Linked DNA regions of Homo sapiens. The protein of the gene in region 1 interacts with the protein of each later gene in a biochemical or structural test. Each region holds a gene or a part of one and is shown in the gene's direction. Other genes may lie near its edges.

What was found.
Region 2: the proteins of TFE3 (region 1) and E2F3 form a complex in vitro, tested with the Homo sapiens proteins (one study listed by BioGRID).

What each region holds. Positions count from the first base shown.
Region 1 is NC_000023.11:49,028,178-49,031,063, reverse strand, and holds the end of TFE3 (transcription factor E3), read left to right. Parts: intron 1-462; coding exon 463-906; 3' UTR 907-2,338; downstream 2,339-2,886. UniProt on the Homo sapiens protein: Transcription factor that acts as a master regulator of lysosomal biogenesis and immune response.
Region 2 is NC_000006.12:20,408,330-20,412,149, forward strand, and holds part of E2F3 (transcription factor E2F3), read left to right. Parts: intron 1-3,820.

The sequences.
Region 1 (2,886 bases):
GCCCAGGCTGGAGTGCAATGGCGCAATCTCGGCTCACCGCAACCTCCGCCTCCCGGGTTCAAGCAATTCTCCTGTCTCAGCCTCCTGAGTAGCTAGGATTATAGGCATGCACCACCACACCCAGCTAATTTTTGTATTTTTAGTAGAGATGGGGTTTCTCCATGTTGGTCAAGCTGGTCTCGAACTCCTGACCTCAGGTGATCCACCTGCCTCGGCCTCCCAAAGTGATTACAGGCGTGAGCCACCGCGCCCAGCCTAGGGGCCATTATTATATACCCACTTTACAGTTTGCGACTCTGAAGCTTCAGAGATGTTAAGCACCTTGCCTAAAGTTTTGGAACTAGTGAGTAGCAGAAGCTGAATTCCAACCCAGGGAACCTACCCTTTTCAACCTTTATACTCCTCTGCCTCTGAGGGACTCTGAACCCTACTTATCCTGCACCCAACCCCTATTTTTTACAGGAACTAGAACTGCAGGCCCAGATCCATGGCCTGCCAGTACCTCCCACTCCAGGGCTGCTTTCCTTGGCCACGACTTCGGCTTCTGACAGCCTCAAGCCAGAGCAGCTGGACATTGAGGAGGAGGGCAGGCCAGGCGCAGCAACGTTCCATGTAGGGGGGGGACCTGCCCAGAATGCTCCCCATCAGCAGCCCCCTGCACCGCCCTCAGATGCCCTTCTGGACCTGCACTTTCCCAGCGACCACCTGGGGGACCTGGGAGACCCCTTCCACCTGGGGCTGGAGGACATTCTGATGGAGGAGGAGGAGGGGGTGGTGGGAGGACTGTCGGGGGGTGCCCTGTCCCCACTGCGGGCTGCCTCCGATCCCCTGCTCTCTTCAGTGTCCCCTGCTGTCTCCAAGGCCAGCAGCCGCCGCAGCAGCTTCAGCATGGAAGAGGAGTCCTGATCAGGCCTCACCCCTCCCCTGGGACTTTCCCACCCAGGAAAGGAGGACCAGTCAGGATGAGGCCCCGCCTTTTCCCCCACCCTCCCATGAGACTGCCCTGCCCAGGTATCCTGGGGGAAGAGGAGATGTGATCAGGCCCCACCCCTGTAATCAGGCAAGGAGGAGGAGTCAGATGAGGCCCTGCACCTTCCCCAAAGGAACCGCCCAGTGCAGGTATTTCAGAAGGAGAAGGCTGGAGAAGGACATGAGATCAGGGCCTGCCCCCTGGGGATCACAGCCTCACCCCTGCCCCTGTGGGACTCATCCTTGCCCAGGTGAGGGAAGGAGACAGGATGAGGTCTCGACCCTGTCCCCTAGGGACTGTCCTAGCCAGGTCTCCTGGGAAAGGGAGATGTCAGGATGTTGCTCCATCCTTTGTCTTGGAACCACCAGTCTAGTCCGTCCTGGCACAGAAGAGGAGTCAAGTAATGGAGGTCCCAGCCCTGGGGGTTTAAGCTCTGCCCCTTCCCCATGAACCCTGCCCTGCTCTGCCCAGGCAAGGAACAGAAGTGAGGATGAGACCCAGCCCCTTCCCCTGGGAACTCTCCTGGCCTTCTAGGAATGGAGGAGCCAGGCCCCACCCCTTCCCTATAGGAACAGCCCAGCACAGGTATTTCAGGTGTGAAAGAATCAGTAGGACCAGGCCACCGCTAGTGCTTGTGGAGATCACAGCCCCACCCTTGTCCCTCAGCAACATCCCATCTAAGCATTCCACACTGCAGGGAGGAGTGGTACTTAAGCTCCCCTGCCTTAACCTGGGACCAACCTGACCTAACCTAGGAGGGCTCTGAGCCAACCTTGCTCTTGGGGAAGGGGACAGATTATGAAATTTCATGGATGAATTTTCCAGACCTATATCTGGAGTGAGAGGCCCCCACCCTTGGGCAGAGTCCTGCCTTCTTCCTTGAGGGGCAGTTTGGGAAGGTGATGGGTATTAGTGGGGGACTGAGTTCAGGTTACCAGAACCAGTACCTCAGTATTCTTTTTCAACATGTAGGGCAAGAGGATGAAGGAAGGGGCTATCCTGGGACCTCCCCAGCCCAGGAAAAACTGGAAGCCTTCCCCCAGCAAGGCAGAAGCTTGGAGGAGGGTTGTAAAAGCATATTGTACCCCCTCATTTGTTTATCTGATTTTTTTATTGCTCCGCATACTGAGAATCTAGGCCACCCCAACCTCTGTTCCCCACCCAGTTCTTCATTTGGAGGAATCACCCCATTTCAGAGTTATCAAGAGACACTCCCCCCTCCATTCCCACCCCTCATACCTACACCCAAGGTTGTCAGCTTTGGATTGCTGGGGCCAGGCCCCATGGAGGGTATACTGAGGGGTCTATAGGTTTGTGATTAAAATAATAAAAGCTAGGCGTGTTTGATGCGCTTTTAACTTTGGCAAAGAGTCTCCTGTCCTTGTTTTACACTGTGCAGTGAACATAGCCCATGCAGGCCAAGAGGGATAAAAGTCCTTGGGAGAAACAGATTCCAGAAGGATGGATAAAAGAATTTAGAAAGGAAGAGGGCATGGAGGAAGACAATATGCAAACAAAAGACAGTATTTTTAAAGACCAATCACCAGGCACAATTTTAACTGCTGCAAGTGTTTCATCTAATTTATTTCTCTAAAGGGATGTTAGTCAGAACATGCTGCTTCTTACTTCCATTTGGTCTTTGAAGAAGCTGAGGAATAGAATTGAACTGTTCTGAAGATATGCAAGCCTGTAAATGGGTGAGGCGGTAAAACAGTAAAGTCAGGTGAGTGAGGGCTCGATTGAAAAATGCCACTGAGGGCAGAGGGGGAAAGAAGCTTTTCTTGCAAATCCACTTTTGAAACTGATAAAGAAGTCTATGAGGATATTTCCTGGCAGACAACAGAGGTATTTAAGATGGTGGAAAGGACAAAGACAAATATCTGAAAGGCAGAGGAACAAGCAACCAACTGAATTTT
Region 2 (3,820 bases), on another chromosome or scaffold:
AGTGGGGATTATTATAGAGGGATAACATACCGAGTTTCTATTTCAATAAGAGGGAAATTGGTTTATATTCTGTTCACACTTGTTTCAAACCCTCTCCTCTAAAAGCAATGTGTTTTTGGAATTCAAGGAATGTACGTTCTTTCCCCAACCTTAACTGGGGGTCAGTCTTATGGCCACCATATTTGTCTACAATATAACTTTTAAAAAATATAATTTTTGCCCTCAAATACTCTCCTATCCAATGCAATGTAACTTTGAAGGAGAAGTGATGAAGGCCACTGGTTGCCAGATTGTATCACACAGCCAGATGCACTTTGCTTTGATGAAGAATCTAAGTGATGCAGGCCCCCACTTAGCTTTGTAAACTAAGGCAGGGGTTTATGTCAGCTCGAGGTAGAAAGCAGTGAGAATTGGCAGCTGATGGAATAGAAAGGGGACAAAAAGAATAAAAAATAATTGACTTTAGTCTGCTTTCCATTACCGTAGCCCAACTCTCTGGGGCCATTTGTGTGGTCTAGACAACATTCTTAGAACTTGACAGTCCCTGAGAACGATATTCTAGGTTGGCATGGGCAATAGTTGGCATTTACACTGGTCTTGGAATCATAACATTTGAGAAGTGTAAGGCACAAGAGTCCTCATCTGCCCAATCCCCTTCATGTTGCAGGTGAGGAAATTCAGGCCCAGTGCTGTTAAATTACTTGCCCAAGGTCACAGGTCTTTGCTAGTGGCAAAGCCAAAACCGAAACGGGAGACTCTTGAATTCTTAGAAGCCTCATTCACCAAGAGAAGGTTAACTGTGTCTCATGAACCCTATATGGGAAAATTGGGGTGTGTAGGACACATTTTAGATTTCCTTCAGGAGTGGTTACCTTTTTTAAAAATGCGCACATAAAGAAGTGTCCTTTAAACAGTTGGCTGTGGGGGTAATGACTTATTCCCAAAGATACAAAATAAGCAAGGCTACTTTGGATGTTAAATGAAAGGGAATTATTTAAAAAAGGAAAGAATGACTCTTCAAAACGTGATAGTAATATTTTTAAAGATTTATTTGATATTCGCAAATTTGTCTTCTGTGGTTATATCAATTCTGTTGCTCAAAAAGTGACACATGCTTCATAGAGAATAGAATCTAAAAGGATTTTTGAGACTTTCTTGGGGAGAAGGACACACAGTGCCCCTCTGGTAGTAACGGAGTTTTGTCCTGGGCCACCAACATCCTGAGTGACTGTCATGCTTTCAGAGGTCCCCAGCCCTTGCCCAGTAACATTGAACAAGGTGTTCTTCCTCTGTGGTTAGCTCCAAGATTTCTGGTTTAGCAAAGTGGCTAATCAGTTAACTCTTTAAGAGGAAATTGTCATTCCTTTAGCCAACGCTAATTTCCTTAAAATGCCTTCTTTTCCTTTTTGGAACTGAGAAAGCTTAAAAATAGAATTGCTTCAAGCCCTGAGGCCTGAAAGTGAAACATAATCTAACGTGGCTGTAGTGCACTGACTCGTTAGGGGCAGCGATATATGGCTTATCTGTAATCCACAAACCAGAAAGGTGCCCAGTGTAGATACGGTCTAACAGCCAGTGAGCATTAAGTACCAACTGATGAGAGTAGTAATCAGTGAAGCTGATTTCCTCTGGAAAGTTTTTTGGCGAGTAGAGTTTGTCTTAGAGAGTGGAGGATTTGAATGCCTCTTGACTTTCTGCTGAGGAGAGCTTCTGCCTGCTCTAGTTTTTATGATCCTGAAGGGTGGTAGCTCTGGACTCTGAGAATGATGGGCAGTGAACTCAGGGTCTGTATATTTCGTTCCACTCTGCTCTTCCCCATTTCTGATGCTTTGGGGGCTCCATTTCTGATACATAACCAGAGCAGCATCCCTGAGGCCCACACTATCTCCTGTGTGCCTTTCTGCATCTGGCAGTCCCTTGGAGAGAAGGAGGCTCATGTGTTTATAACCTGCACCCTGTCCTAAAAGGCATAGTGAGGGGCAGCTGAGTATAAGGTCAGGCCACTTAGCCTGGAGCCAGAGTGCCTGTGTTCTTGTTCTGGCTCTGCTCACTAGCCCTGTGACTTTGGGCAAGAAACTTGGCCTCTATGTTTTCATTTCCTCATCTGTAAATTGGGAGGAATGATAGTACCTACCTTATGGGGTTAGGAAGTTGCAATGAGTTCTTATTTGTAAAGTGCTTAGACCAGTGTCTGGCACGTAGGAAGGATTATGTGTTAAGTAGAAACATGGTATAATTGCCCTTCCTTCCACAGGCATCTCATGGGCTGTCCTTTTGTGATCCATTTTCTTGGTTTGTTTTTGTTTTGAGACCAAGTCTTGTTCCGTTGCCCAGGCTGAAATGCAATGGTGCAATCTTGGCTCACCGCAACCTCTGCCTCCTGGGTTCAGCCGATTCTCCTGCCTCAGCCTCCCCCGTAACTGGGATTACAGGTGTGCGCCACCACGCCCAGCTAATTTTATTTGTATTTTTAGTAGGGACGGGGTTTCACCATGTTGGTCAGGCTGGTCTCGAACTCCTGACCTCAGGTGATCTGCCCGCCTCGGCCTCACAACGTGCTGGGATTGTAGGCATGAGCCACTGTTCCTGGCCTGATCTATTTTCTTAACTAGCCCTTAGTGTTCATTTCACCCCATTGCACCTCTCTAAAAATGGTGATGATGGGAAGGAGAAGTAAACCGTGGAATGGCTCTCGCCTAATGCAGTCTTTAGGGTCTAGGGTCTTTGTATTTCTTTATAAGCTGCCCATTGACTTGGGAAAAAGAACTGAAGAATAAGCTTCTTGTAGTAGTGCTATCAGTAGTGATAGTGTCATGAATAAAACCTTTATTTCTGTGATTAAATGTATTAATAAAGTGACACTACTAGCATGAATGACACTATTAACATAATTTCAATCCTGTACAGTAAACCATGGCTTAAGACTGAATGGCAAGAATCAGGGTGTCTGAGCTGCTGGGCCCTGCCAGACTCGGAGCCCCTGCCAGTGTGTGTATATCAAGGCAGGGCGGGGGGTTGTCTTGCTCTCCAGAGGCAATGGAACCTGCCTCTAGGCCTCCCTTTTCCCTTCTCATCTCCTCACCCCTCCTTTTTTATGTTAGATCTATTCCTACCCCTTCCCCTTCGCCTTGCCCTCTGCCTGGCTCTTAGAAGGAAGCAGACTTGCCACCTTCAGTGGCTGCTTCCCGGACTTACCAAATTAATTACCACCTTTTCCTGCCATCAAGGGATGGTGAAATCTTGCCTTTTCGGTCTTGCTTCCCATTCCTCTGCACTCGGCTGCTGCGACAGTGTGGTGCTGCAGGCACCGCAGATTTCCCTCTGGTGTGTTTGCTCGTAGCTTCTCCCTCTCCACCTTACTCCTTTTGTTGCCCTCCTCCCACTGGCCCATTGAGGCCCACATCAAGGGAAGGCGTAGGCACAGCCTCCCCCAGTTTCCCAGGGGCTTGGGCCTCTCCCTTCCCTTGGGTTACTGCTTCTTTCCTGTAACACCTCATGGTCTGCCTCGTAGCCTAATCTTGCATGTTCATGACTTACTCCTCCTCCAAACCTGTAAGCTCCAAGAAATCGGTCTGGCTTGCTTTTTCATCATGTGGTCCCTGCAGTGCCCACTACACTATAGGCTCAGCTACCTGAGAAGAGGCATTTTCATTAGACACCTTCCATGTGCTTGGTACCCCATTAGTCCTATTGGGGATACAAAAGAAGTATGAGGTGTGATCCGCCCACTCTTGAGTTTACAGTCTGTTGAGGAGACAAGCTTTAAACACAAGTTGATCTGCAAGCAAGACTAAACAGGCGGTAGGGAGAAAACAAGACT